Linked DNA regions of Homo sapiens. The protein of the gene in region 1 purifies or fractionates together with the protein of each later gene. This does not show direct contact. Each region holds a gene or a part of one and is shown on either strand. Other genes may lie near its edges.

Evidence for each region. The genes of interacting proteins can lie anywhere in the genome.
Region 2: the proteins of RASGRP4 (region 1) and DSG4 purify together in Homo sapiens (affinity purification with mass spectrometry; 2 studies listed by BioGRID and IntAct, with this or other methods). This does not show direct contact.

What each region holds. Positions count from the first base shown.
Region 1 is NC_000019.10:38,416,213-38,423,236, reverse strand, and holds part of RASGRP4 (RAS guanyl-releasing protein 4), read left to right. Parts: intron 1-1,083; coding exon 1,084-1,268; intron 1,269-2,036; coding exon 2,037-2,142; intron 2,143-2,266; coding exon 2,267-2,329; intron 2,330-2,974; coding exon 2,975-3,106; intron 3,107-3,223; coding exon 3,224-3,377; intron 3,378-4,672; coding exon 4,673-4,846; intron 4,847-6,068; coding exon 6,069-6,185; intron 6,186-7,024.
Region 2 is NC_000018.10:31,372,019-31,379,800, reverse strand, and holds the start of DSG4 (desmoglein-4 isoform 2 preproprotein), read right to left. Parts: upstream 3,025-7,782; 5' UTR 2,890-3,024; coding exon 2,842-2,889; intron 1-2,841.

The DNA of each region.
Region 1 (7,024 bases):
CTTGCTCTCTTGAGGGCTGTGGGAGGAAGGAGGGGAGGGTGTTAGAGACCAAACGGGAGCCCTGAGGAGGCAATTCCTGAAGGCAGGTCCTCCCATGCCTCTGCCTGGGGAGGACAGAAGAGATTCCAGGGGTCTTCTCCCGAGTCCCTGGTAGGCCAGGAGTAATCCTGGGATCTGCCAAAAGGAAGTCTCTTCCAGGATGCCCTGGAAGCAGTCAAGAGGAAGTTGGGGGCAATGCCTGGGGAAGGAGTTCTTATGATTCCCTGAGGGGTCTTGAGTGGTCCCAGGGGTCTTCTACTGTGATTCCCTGGGAGATTCAGAGCAGTCCTGAGCGGCGGTCCCCAGGCTTTTTGGCATCAGGGACCAGTTTTGTGGAAGGGGGTGGGGATGGTGTGGGGATGATTCAAGTTAATTACATGTATCCTGTGCTTTATTTTTATTATTATTACATTGTAATATATAATGAAATAGTTACGCAGCTCACCATAATGGAGAATCAGTGGGAGCCCTGAGCTTGTTTTCCTGCAACTGGATGCTCCCATCTGGGGGTGATGAGAGACAGTGACAGATCATCAGGCATTAGGCATCAGGCATCATAAACAGCACGCAGCCTAGATCATCAGGCATCATAAACAGCACGCAGCCTAGATCCCTCGCATGTGAAGTTCACAATAGGGTTCATGCTCCTAAGAGAGTCTAATGCCCCAGCTGATCTGACAGGAGGTGGAGCTCAGGCGGGGGTGCTTGCTTGCCCGCTGGTTCCTAACAGGCCACGGACTGGTACCTGTCTGTGTCCCAGGGGCTGGGGACCCCTGGTCTTGAGGATCTTCCTCTCTGATTCCCTGAAGGGAGCAGGAATATCCCTGGGAGTTTGCTTGTGGGAGAGGGCTCCCATGATTCCCCCAGGGATCTGGAATATTCCTGGGGATTCTCTCTAGAGTCCCTGGTAGGTCAGGGGTAACCCTGGGGCTTTGCCTTTAGGAAGCCTCTCCCGTGGTGCCTTGGGGCATTAGAGTCAAAAGGAATTCTAGGGTCTGTCCGAAAGAAGGTGCTCCCATGACTCCTTGGGGGCTGTGCCCACAGGAAGTCCCACCAGGAATGCACCGGAAAAATAGGAGGGCGAGGCCGGCCCCGCCAAGTGCGCCGCCACAAGACATGCCCCAGCCCTCGGGAAATCAGCAAGGTCATGGCTTCCATGAACCTGGGCCTGCTGAGTGAGGGCGGCTGCAGCGAAGATGAGCTGCTGGAGAAATGCATCCAGTCCTTCGGTAAGTGTCCTCTCCCCAGCAGCCTCCCTGGCCCTAACCTCGGGCTCAGCACTCGCTTCTCTCCACCTCAGTTTTTGGAGGTAAAATGAGAACAGGGCTGGGTGGAATGAAACTCAATCACTACATTAGAGATAACAGAAACACCTGCATTTCTTCTTTCCTGAAATGGAAATATATACATTTATATATATATATAATATATGTGTATATTATATATATTTATATAAATCTTTTTTCTTTTCTTTTCTTTTTCTTTTGAGACAGAGTCTCGCTCTGTTACCCAGGCTGGAGTGCAGTGGCCTGATCTCAGCTCACTGCAACCCCCACCTCCTGGGTTCAAGAGATTCTCCTGCCTCAGCTTCCCGAGTAGCTAGGATTACAGGCACATGCCACCAGGCCCAGCTAATTTTTGTGTTTTTAGTAGAAACGGTGTTTCACCATGTTGGCCAGACTTGTCCCGAACTCCTGGCCTCATATGATCCGCCCGATTCAGCCTCCCAAAGTGCTGGGATTACAGGTGTGAGCCACTGTGCCCGGCCAGTCTGGTGCTATTTCAATCTTCAGCAAGACTTGCCAGGGGTGATGCTGCCCCATGCACAATACAGATAAGGAAACTGAGGCACAGGAGGTTAGGTTGCCTGTCCAAGGTCATGCTGGGGATCACCGTTAGAGCTGGTCTTTGAACCAGGTGGTCCGGCAGGATCTGGAGCTACGCTCTGCATTGCTTGAGGGCCATTCTGTCACAGAGTACCCCTCCTTCCACCCCAGATTCAGCTGGCAGCCTGTGCCACGAGGACCACATGCTCAACATGGTGCTGGCCATGCACAGCTGGGTGCTGCCGTCCGCCGACCTGGCTGCCCGCCTGCTGACCTCATATCCTCCAGGACTGTGAGCTATGGGTGGAGGGCAGAGGGCAGAGTCGTGAGAACCTGGGCAATGGGAATGGGGAGCAGGCAGGTCATGGATCCTGGAAAACAGAGCCTTGACCAGAACTCAAATACCAGAAGGCCACAGGGGACACCCAGGAGCTGAGACGGCTGCAGATCTGTCACCTGGTCAGGTAGGGCTGGGCCGAGATCCCCACTCTCAGGACCCACGACTTCCATCCTGCTTCCCCCTCAAAAAACATTCCTCAGAGAATCCCCAGGCCAGTTCCCACAGACCCAACCAGCCCCACAGGCCAAAATCCCACTTCTGAGACACCTGTAGCTTGGTTCCTAAGACCCTCTTAGTTCCGTTCCTTAGAACCCCCACTTCCTAGAGACCCCCCTCACCAACCAGATCCCATAGACCCTCCTAGCTGGTGCCCAGAGACCTCCAACTCTGATCCCCAAAATCTCTACCTCCCACAGACCCCAGCCTAGCCCATAAGACCCCCTCATTCTGTCCCTCCAAAAATTTCACCCCCGGAAGCCCCCAGTCTAGTTCCTAGGACGCTCCACGATCTTGCTTCCCAATAATCCCACTTCCAAGTGACTCCCCGGTCTGTTTCCCACAGATCCCCCCAGTCTCTGTTAAGAGACCCCCATCCTACTCCAGAGATTCTCCAAGCCTGGTGCCCCTCCAAACCCCAACCCTCCAGGGACCCCCACACACATTTAGAGACCCCCTAGCTCAGCACCTAGAAATTCCTCAGCCCAAAATACCCCTTGTAGAGACCTTCGCCACCCCCGGCCTCATCTCACCATCTCCAAACCACTCTCAGGTACTGGCTGATGCGACACCCTGAGGTGATGCACCAGGATCCCCAGCTAGAAGAAGTCATAGGTCGTTTCTGGGCCACCGTGGCCCGGGAGGGCAACTCAGCCCAGAGAAGACTGGGAGACTCTTCTGACCTGTGAGTCAGCCCTGTGCTCCCCTCTTCCCTGCCCCATCGCCATTCTGCCATCTCCCTCTATATCCCCAAGCCCTCAACTGTGAGCCACTCCAATACCCTGCCCCTCTTGGCCCCCAGCCTGAGCCCTGGTGGCCCTGGCCCCCCACTCCCAATGAGCAGCCCAGGCCTGGGCAAAAAGCGCAAAGTGTCCTTGCTTTTCGACCACTTGGAGACGGGGGAGCTGGCTCAGCACCTCACCTACCTGGAGTTCCGGTCCTTCCAGGCTATCACGGTGAGGACCCCCTCCCATCCCCGTCCCAAGCAGGGGAGACACTGGGGTAGGGGAGGGATTGGCTGGGGGAAGGTAGGACTGAGAGGACACCTGCATGGTCATTCGGCAGAGATCTCAAAGTCTTAAACTCAAACCTGTATGCTAGAAGGTCCAGGAAAATGAGTTAAAGAGGCCAAGGCAGGCAGATCGCCTGAGGTCAGGAGTTTGAGACCAGCCTGGCCAACATGGTGAAACCCCATCTCTACTAAAAATACAAAAATTATCCAGGTGTGGTGGTGCATGCCTGTAATCCCAGCTACTTGGGAGGGTGAGGCAGGAGAATCACTTGAACCTCAGGAGGCGGAGATTACAGTGAGCTGAGATCACACCACTGCACTCCAGCCTGGGCGACAGAGCGAGATTCTGTCTCGAAAAACAACAACAACAAAAAAGTAAAATAAATAAATAAAAGGCTTATTGCAGCGACTGGCACTTAGTAAGTGCTCAAAATATTTTATCATTTATTCAACAAGCATTTAAATTCATGGTGCCTCAGTTTCCTCATCTGTAAAAAGGGGATATGCACAGTTCCTGCCTTGCAGGAACAGTGCCTGGTCCAGGGTAAATGCTATCTGCTTGAACCATTTGAAATTGTCATATATTACCTACCCAAGGATCAGTTTCATGTGCTTCAACATATATATGCATTAGCTTTTGCCATCTGGACATCATCATTTCAAGGGAAGGTGGGGATCTGTTTCCTTCATGTGAAACTGTCCCGATTGTATGTGTGTGTTGTGTGTGTGAGTGTGTATGCAAATATACTCAGTGTAGTGGATGTGGGTATGAAATGAACACTCCTTGGGCAGAACAGATAGAGGTTGATTTCAATTCATCTTCCCCAGCCTTCCCTTTGCTTACTGTATACCAGTCAGGTGTACAGTTAAGAGCATATAGACGCCCACCCTGACTCACACCTGTGTGACCCTGGGCAAATTACCTATCCTCTATGTGCCTCAACTGTCTCACCTCTAAAATGGAATGATACTCACCTCATAGAGTTATGAGGATTAAATTATTTAATATGATTACTTGTCAAATATAGTGCCTGGCTATATTGAAACATGCCTCCTCAGATGGGAGAGGAGCATGGTGACGTTAAGGACATGTAGCAGCCTGAGGGTTGGGGGACAGATGACAAAGGTCACTCCGGCTAGACCAGGCTAGGACATCAGAGATCGTGACTGCTAGTTGGATGCCATGGAAGGGCAGGGCCTGAGCGCCACGGCCCACCTTGACACCCACCTCGCTCCCAGCCCCAGGACCTGCGGAGCTACGTTTTGCAGGGCTCAGTACGAGGCTGCCCGGCCCTGGAGGGCTCCGTAGGTCTCAGCAACAGCGTGTCCCGCTGGGTGCAGGTGATGGTGCTGAGCCGTCCCGGGCCCCTACAGCGTGCACAGGTGCTGGACAAGTTCATTCACGTGGCACAGGTGAGGCCCGCCCCTTGGGGCTGCGAACTCCACTGCACGCAGCCACCTGGTCCTTCCCCTTCCAGACCCTCGACCCCACAGGGTCATCCCGGCGGTGACGTCACGCATCTCCCGGCCCCGCCCCCGAGGCCACAGCCTGGGCATTCCAACCAAGGACCGTAACTTCTTCTTTGGCCTTGATGTCACCGCGTCGCACCCACCGTGGCCCCACCCCTTGGCCCTAGACGTGACAGGCTCCCAAGCCCTATGCCCGAATATTCTATCCCCAGGTCAATGAGAGTGTCTCTTCCATGCCCCCACCTTTGTGGGGCATGGAAGCCCGAGGCTTCAATCCCCAGTCCCCAGGCCCCAGCGGTCGCTTCGGGATTGTGCATCGCTCCCCATTGCGTCCGGGCTCTCCCCGCCCCGCCCCATTGTGTTACGCCCTTCTCTTCCCCTCCCTTCCCCCTCCTTTCCGGACACCTTCTCGCCCTTCTGGGGAAAAGGGAAGCCCTACGGCCCCGCTGTGGCCGCGCCCCCTTGCGTATTTCCACGCAGACCACGCCCTTCCTCTGGTGTCTTCCCTGGCTTGCTTACTCCTGCAGGGCCCCTGAGACCTGGGGGTCTCGACGTCCGCCTGGGGTGTCCTTAGTCTGAGCATTTTCCATTCCTCCCTGGCCCCACTCTCTCCACAGCAACCTCTGCCGAAATTTGTCAAAAGGAGGGCAAGGGAATTCCCCAGCTGCCCTGGTGGCCCCACACCTGTCTAGCATCTGTCTGACTCCTCCATATCTCTCTGGCCCTATTCACCTCTGCCTGGCTCCCAGCTCCTGCCCAGAGCCTGCACCTTCTTGCCTCCCCGCACCTGTGTGACTCTCAGAGCAGTCAGACCCCCAGATGGCTGACACCCTGACATGTCTGAAGCCTCCTCCACCTGACACACACCTGTCTATTCCCCAAATCCGCCCAACTTCTCGTACTTCCTGTCTCCCCAGATTTTCTAACCTCGTATCAGTCAATCACTTGCTTGACCCTCCCGGCTCAGATAGCCATCTGACACCCCTGTGAGGCCCACACATGGCATGTCCCACTCTTGCCGCACACACCCGCCTTCTCTCACCTGTCTGATCCCCACATTGGTCCACACATGCCTGGGACCCCACCTCAACTGGGATGCTGTCATCTGAACTCCTGACTTGCCCTCCCTCCCGTGACGGCCCTGTGTGCATGCTTCTCTTCCTAGAGGCTCCACCAGCTGCAGAATTTCAACACGCTGATGGCAGTCACAGGGGGCCTGTGTCACAGTGCCATCTCCAGACTCAAGGACTCCCATGCCCACCTGAGCCCTGACAGCACCAAGGTGAATCCCACTACCCTCCCCAAAGCTCCAAGTGGTCAGCTGTCTTGAGCCCCCACACCTAATTCCCCAAGCCCTGTCCATTCCTGCCCAGGGGTCCTGGTACCACATGAAGTCCTTGCTCCTCCAAATCCCAGACCCCCAGGCTCTGCCAGCATTCCTCCTCCCTGTCATCCATCCACTCATGGTGCTGATCCCTCTCTGCTTTCAGTGTGTCTGGTCCGGAGCTGGACTGTGAGGGAGACAGATGGGAGACAGGCTAGCAGAGAACTTTGCAGTCCCCATGGGGAGGACTGGCTGAGGTCAGAAAGTGGCAGGAAATTAAGCCGAAGATGCCCTGGGAAGATCCTATAGCGCCTTGTAAGATGGGCTAAGCTAGGGAAGTTTTGAGAGTGATGACACACCCTTGATAAAATCTGGGTTTTTAAGAAATAATTATAGGCTGGGTACAGTGTGGCTCACACTTGTAATCCCAGCGTTTTGGGAGGCCAAGATTGGAGGATCACTTTAGCCCAGGTGTTTCAGACCAGCCTGGGCAACATAGCGAGACCCCATCTCCAGAAATTTTTTTTTTTTTTTTTTTTTTTTTTTGAGACAGAGTCTCGCTCTTGTCGCCCAGGCTGGAGTGCAGTGGTGCAATCTCGGCTCACTGCAACCTCTGCCTCCCGGATTCAGGTAATTCTCCTGCCCCAGCCTCCCGAATAGCTGGGATTACAGGGGTGCACCACCATGCCCTGCTAATTTTGTATTTTTAGTAGAGACAGGGTTTTACCATGTTGGCCAGGCTGGTCTCAAACTCCTGACCTAAGGCGATCCACCCACCTTGGCCTCCAAAAGTGCTG
Region 2 (7,782 bases), on another chromosome or scaffold:
TTCTGTTCCATGTTTCAGAATAACATATTTGAGTGCATGTGAGAACTAAATTGATAAGTGGCTAAGTTAATTTTAAATATGTTTTCAAATTTTGATGCCTGCTCTCAACTTGCAATGAGATAACAGCTATATTTAGCCACCTACCTTTTTAACTTCCAAGAATTAGACTATTTAATGGAAGTGCTTACATCTTATATGTAGCATGAATGGTCATCACACATAGAGAAAAATTCTTATCTGATAAATGGTTGTCTTTTATGACCTTATCCACTTGATATAATATAGGCCTCTTCCAGCTAATAACTGTCCTGCCGTAAGTGATTCCTTCCTTATAAAATTTATACAATCCATAGAATTGCCTAAATCCTCAGATTCTCCAGCCAAATTTATGAAAACTATTTATGAGCCAGAAATGAACTTCTACTATGTAAGTATTCAGTGGAGATAATTTTAGAATTGCAGTTTCTACAGTGGAAGCAACTTAATAACATCATGTCTAACCATACATTCTCACATGAGGTCAAAGGAAGCCCTGAGAAGTTGGGTGCTTTTGCCAAAGTTACACAGCCACTTTGAAGAGGAGCTGTAATTCAAACCCGGGACTTCTGAATCTCGATTCACTGTTGAATGTCCCTCACCACCCCTGTCTGTTTTATAGAAGAACATGATAAGCATCCTTAGGAAGAAAATGCCAAATGACTCGTGATAAAATCAGTGCCCTATTGTAATCTAGAGTTTTGAGTACCTTTTGCTGGTTAGCCAGTCAGAACTTTGTTTACAGTGCTCTTTGCGGTTGAGATGTAGCTGACACAAAGTACCTGTGAGTCTCTGAGAGGCTGCCACACCCTCATTAGTGTAAGCTGCAATGATGCCCCAGAGAGTCTTTGATTTAGTTAATGAAGAAGGGGCAGAGTTCAAGTTCAGGAAATTAAAGAGAAGTAGGCATGTCTACTTTCCTATAATATCTATAACATCTCATTGATTCTCCTTAAACAATTCTTGTATTTGTTTCAATTTTGAAATATGCCAGAAGTCTCTACCTCCCAATTCCAGACACTATTAATTGATATGGTAAGGGATCTTTTAGACAAGCATAAAGAAAAAAAATACTTAAAGAACTTTTTCACAATTACCGTGAAATGTCAAACACAAAGACTTCAATATCAATGAGGAGTAGGAGGAATTAAGTATTAAAAACGCTAGTATTACCAAGGAAAATAAATAAATACTACCAAAAAAAGATCCTGAGAGTCTGAAGTATAATACTCTTTCAAGATCAAGGAGAAGAATCAACTCTTCAATTAAATAATATTATCATAAATCATGCCTGTGCAGAAGGCAATGGGAGGCAAGATTTAGTGCTCAGAAGTGGCCTCTAAAATCTTGACACATACAATTTTCCTTACAGAAAACCAAAAGTTTATCTGAGTCAAAGCATGAATATACTCGGTAGAAGAGTAACAAGAGGTATATCCTCATAACTTACTATTTCAATTGAAGACCAAGTCCGATTCTTGCCTCTTCTTTTAGTAACATTTATTTTATTTAGTAAATAAATAATGATCATTGTAACAGAATATTGCCCTTCGTCTTATGTTTTTAAGTTTAAAAATATTTTTCAAAAATGGTATTGTTTAATAATCTGTCTCCTAAACTCAGAGGATGCAATATTCTACCACTGTTGTCACGTTCCCTTTTGAGCTTGGGGTTGTGTGCCCTTTGGCAGTGTTCGGCTCCCGCACTGCTCTTGAAGTTTAGAAATGTGAATTCCAGAAGAGTAGCTCTCACTGTGCCTCTTGGACAATGACGTGCTCCCATCTCTCCCAGCCCTAGCTACTCTCTGTCTCTTACAACTGATGTTCAGAGGAGTCTGGTATAATTGCCACTTGCCTAAGAATAGGATGGGAATCACTTTCTAAGCTTAGGTTGTAGCGCTAACCTGGATACTCCTGGGAGATTGAAGTGTGGCCAACTATAATGCATTTGTCTTAATTTACTTTGAAAAATTTGTACAGTTCCTAATAATCCTGTCCTCTTACCCTCCCAGAATTGGCAATAGTTTGTTGATTGGCCAACTGGAACTTTGTTCTTCTTTGGAGTTGGAATTATCTCTTTCTAGGGTAGGATATTTGCTATGCATGCTGCCTGTCTGGAAATCATGTCACACCTTGGGCACCCAAAGGTTAGAGGAAAGAAATATAATATCCAAGATGCCATGTTTACTGTAAAGAAATAAGTCATTTAAATATTTCTTTGCTGGTCTGTAGGAATGCATTCATAATTCCAGAAAAGTTTTGTCTTGATGGCTGGGCTTCATTTTTCTTTAGCAATATCTGACTGGAAAAAGTTCTCATGACTTTAGTATGTCATCATTAGTTGCAATGTAATTTCAACATGGCTATCATTCCTCCACTTTGAAAGAAACTCATAGGGAAATAACTATTGAAAAGAAATGGGTTTGATTAACTTCCCTTCAAATTTAGAACCCATTTGCACTGGCAGTTTTCACAGCAATCTATCTGATTTATTTATATGATCATAGAATATGAATTTTATTTCCAATTTAAAATTTTAGAATAGTCCTAACACTCAAAGTGAAGTAGATTATGTCTCTGAGGGCATATAAATTTAATTCAGCCAGATTCTCACCCCGCTTCTCTATGGCATTTTGTTCCTCAAGGCGGAGAGAGTTGTTTGAAATTAACAGAGGCTGGACTTCTAGAACTCTCTTTGCAGGAAGGAGATTAAAAATGGAATAAATCCCATGTAGAAAGCCCGACAGTTGACAGAGACAAGACCTTGAGGCTGCATTTCCTTCCCACCTCTTTAAATTCTACTTACCATTAGAATGATCAAAAGGCAAATGTTTCTGAAGAAGAGCCAATCCATTCCTTTGGGTTTCTCTTGCACGCAAATCCTGTGAGATTCAATTTGAGCCCTCGTCTTCTCAGTTCCGAATTCTGCTCTACAGAAAGATATGCTTTGAGACACCCTTTTAGGAGGGCATGGGTGATAACTGTGGTGATCTCTGGGCAGAGAGATGAAGATATTCTATAATGACTGTTTCCCCACCCCAAACTCCCAGGCTGGTCTGGAAGACTGGCATTGTTTGGGCTCTGGGTAAGAATTTAGACACACCTTGATTCTTATTGCAATGAAACCCTTTGTTGGACACCAAAGAAAAACCTTACAGAGCGAGGACAAGATTTACAGGGAAGATAGCCAGTGAATAATAAATTACTCACAACATAAAAAATAATTAAAATGCTAGGGCCTATCATCATGCTGAATAAAATTAGAAGGCTTCTTCTTACTGCCAACATTGTAAAAGCAAAATTACATATACTGACAACACATACACACACATGTCCACTGCAGAACCCACTTCAAGGAATGATACTTTTAGCAGAGGCCATTGTTGAAAGTCATCAGGACTCAAGTATGGTATAGGAAGAAAGATAGAATAATGACGCTCATTTCAATTCAGTTGAGTCCTGCTTCTCTCTTTAAAATGTCTTGTGGTTGAACCGCACTCTCAATTTTAAAGATTTTCTGAAATAACAAAGTTAAGATGAAGGAACTCTGATTTAACTAGTACCAGTATGTTTGTTTCCATACTTTGGCATTTTCTTTCTTGATTATTCAGTCAAACCTCTACAATATGATATTTACAAAATCATTTTAAAGTAACTACAATACAACATTCTCACTTCTCATAGTATTACCACTGATAAAAAGTACATAATGTGGGTGAGGAACACATTTTACACCACCACAAATATTTATTAAGGAGAAACTGAAGTTGGAAACGTGAGAATTTAATGAAAAAAAGCCCAGAGTGGGATCTGGATATTTTTGAATATTATTTCCCTTTTTCGTGTCTCCCTTTTCCTTTGTTAGTATGGGTTTGAAACAGGGTATAGAGTGTCCTGATGCAAACATTGCAGGCTGGCAGCAACATCAATAAACTTAAAAGAAAATGCAGTTAACTGTTCTCTGATTGATAGATAATACATGTTGGTTGGAGAATTTCAAAGGGAGACTGCCTCCTGTCTTCACTATCCCATCACTGTAATTCAGAAACAAGGTTGACCCTGGTAATAGAATGTATTCTAAGTATTGCTTAGTTTCTTGAGAAAAGTAGTTTTAGTATTTTTGGAAGCCAGATAAAGTAATTTACTTTTGCATTATTTCATGTCATGTTGAATTAGATAATTTAATTTGCCTAAGAGAATTAATGAAACAACTCCAGGTCTTTAAGTGACATTGCTTTTTACAAGGGAAAAACAACATTCTTCTCTATTGTTGTGTTTGAAGGAGATATTTCACAAAGGTCTCTATCTTTTGTTTACACTATAGATGATTTCTTCTACATATAAGATTTTTCTTATATTTTCTTCTAAATATAAGATTTTCTATCTACTTGAATGCTATTTATAGGATGAGTTTTAAAGAAAAGAAACAGGAAGCAATAGAAATAGGTACTAGATCATTTATGTGGGTACCTCTAGCTTTCTCCATTTGAAACTCCTGATTTCAATGGTATCCAGAATTTGAATCCAGATTATAATTATGAACATATTTAAAAGATTCTTCAGTAACTAAGGAGGAACTACCTGAAGCCCCATCATTTCATTTCTGTTTACTCCTTGGAGATTTGTGGGAATGATCTTTTGCTTTAAAGTTTTTTTTGGAGACAGAGTCTTGCTCTGCTTCTCAGGCTGGAGTGCAGTAGTGGTCTGAGTGCAGCTCACGGCAACCTCTGCCTCCTGAGTTCAAGTGATCCTCCCACCTCAGCCTCTCAAGTACTTGGGTTTACAGGTGCATGTCACCACACTTGGTTAATTTTAAAAATATTTTGTAGAGACAAGGTCCTGCTATATTGTCCAGGCTGGTCTCAAACTCGTGGGCTTAAGTGATCCTCCTGCCTTGGTCTCCTAAAGTACTGAGATTACAGGTGTGAGCTACTGTTTCCCACAGGGGATGGATGATTTTACAGTGGAATTCCCAAAGACAAAACTTGGTTATGGTTCTGAGCTTGTGTAGATAAAGAGTAGCTACTTCCGTTTCTCTTGAAGAGTATCAGTCATTGTAGAAACAGAGCATAAAACATTAATGCTTAAAGATACCACAGAGATCATATAATCCAATCTCTCCTATCTTGCCTCTCTCCTACCCATGTGATAGTGATAGTCTAGGGAGGCTGTATGGTTTATTAGGGTCAAAGATAGGCAAGAGTTCCATCTCCTCATTCATAGTCAGTTTATATAAATACCAAGCCACTTTTCATTATTAGCTACGTATGTGAAGGCAAAATAGTGGATGGTTAAACACTATTAGCTTTAAAAGACTTTCCCATACTTTAGAGTTTACTGAACTGTTGGTTCTATGAGCAGAATTTTTAGCAAGTTTTTTATAGTATTTATTTTTGATGTCAAACCAGTGACATTTCATTTGCTCAGATGAAACCATACATTGGCTTTTAGGGATGCTACTGATATTTAATTATTGTACTTATGCTTCTATAATATTGTATAAAGTAGCAAGACACCTTTATTCTCCACATCACATCTGTGTAGAACACAGTGAGAGCTTTAACACCTGTACTTTTCAAATCAATGCCACAAAAGGCAAGGAATTCAATACATGCCAATACAAGTCCTCTTTGAAAAACAGAAATGTAATTTATACAGACAAAGATATTGTGGAAATGACATTAGGGCAAACTTTTCCATCAAATTATTCTAGTCTAGGGTTACTACTGGATATTATTCAAATATCCAAGGACAATTCTATTTCTTGAAAGCAAGAGTTAGGGGGAAGGAAATTTAAAAAATAATTATGGTCCTAAAGTATGGTGGTCAAATGCAGCACAAGTTGTTTCCAGAGCTGACGCAAGCAAAAGGTTTTCATCTGCCTGGGCCTGGGGAGGCGGGGACAAAAGGTAAACAAGGCTTGTCAGGGTTTTGACCTAGAGTCATTGCTGTGAACACATGTCTGTTCACCTACCACACTGAAGATAAACATCCTGTCCCCTCATTAAAGGCAACTTATGTATGGCAACAAGGGGCCGGCCAACCAGGTTATTTAGTGGGTGTTAGAAATCATAGAGATTAAACATCAGTTTCGTAAAGAGTTATGTTATTTCCATAAAGATGATGTTAGTTTACACCCTAAAATCATGCTTACATCCTGACAGAGATGCCTTGTTGATTATCTCTGTGAATTCACAGGTATAGGATGTATTCCAAATAAGTGGAGACAGAAGAGCGTGGCTTCTAGCTGTATGTTAAATAAAGCGTATTACTTACATACTTATTGCATACTTGCTACATACTTATCTAGGAAATATCATCTTAGTTTGCCTCCTGCCTCCCGATGACTACAGTGGCAACCATTCTACAGTGTGATAATTATTTAGATGTCACTCTGGTTTCTTCAGTGACACTGGCAGTGTCCCTCTTATGACAAAGTTGTATCATGTACATGGTTAACCTTTGATGCTGTTAGTTATATATCTGGCAACCTCGACTATGGAATCTGGTCAGCTCAGGATGTCTGAGGAAGAAATCCAGCAATAGGAAGGTCAAAAGGTAGGCAGTGTTTTTTGAAATATATTTCTTAGGCCATTATGTAGAAAATGCAGGTTCCCTGGCCCCAAATTTAGTGAATCAGAAGCTTTGGGGATGAGATCTAGAATTATTCATTCTTAACATACTCTTTAGGTAATTCTCGGGAGGCAGGCTGAAGTTGAAGAATTATTGAATCAGGGTAATCACGTGGCCCTATGGGTGGCCCAGGGAGAAATGGCACCAGGTAAAAAAGAACATTTTTCTTTTTTCTTTTTTTGAGACAGAGTCTCCCTCTGTCACTCAGGCTAGAGTGCAGTGGCACAATCTCAGCTCACTGCAACCTCCACCTCCTGGGTTCAAGCGATTCTGCCTCAGCCTCTTGAGTAGCTGGGATTACAGGTGCCCGCCACCACATCTGGCTAATTTTTTGTATTTTTAGTAAAGACGTGGTTTCACCATGTTGGTCAGGCTGGTCTTGAACTCCTGACTTCAAGTGATCTGCCTGCCTCTGCCTCCCAAAGTGCTGGGATTACAGGCGTGAGCCATGGCACCCAGTCAAAAACATTTTTCTAGTGTGAATAAGATTAGCATCTCTTCATGGGGTGGGCCAGGGGCCGGGGAGAGATACTGGCCATTTATATTTCTTTTTATTTGAAATATTTATTTCCTTTTTCCTGGTTTTCCACTGGGCTGCTGATGTCTTTAATACTGGTTCTTTCATGTACTTTTGTATATGAGAGAAAACAGCCTCTGTCATACGTGTCACAATTCACGTAATTTGCATTTTTTGAATTTGTTTTGATTTTTTTTTGCAATTGATAATGATTATGTTTTCGCATAGGATAGGTTTTTATAAACAATTCTGCTTTCTGTATTAGTTTGTTGTTGTAAACTACAAACTTTCTGTATTTGTTGTTGTAAGTAAGTTATCACAAACTTAGTGACTTAAAACAACACAAATTTATTATCTTACTGTTCTGGAGGTCTGAAGTCCACAGTGAATCTTGGGCAAGGTTAGTTCCTGCTAGGGGTTCTTAGGAATAGATGTATTTCCCTGCTATTTCCTGCTTGTGGAGGCTGCTTTCATTCTTTGGCTTATGTCCTCCTTCCAGCAATCACATCATCTCTGCTTCCTTCCTCATGTCTCCTTTATGTCAGCAAATGTACATGAATTCCCTAGGTTGTATCAAGGTGTGGAATTTCTGGGTCA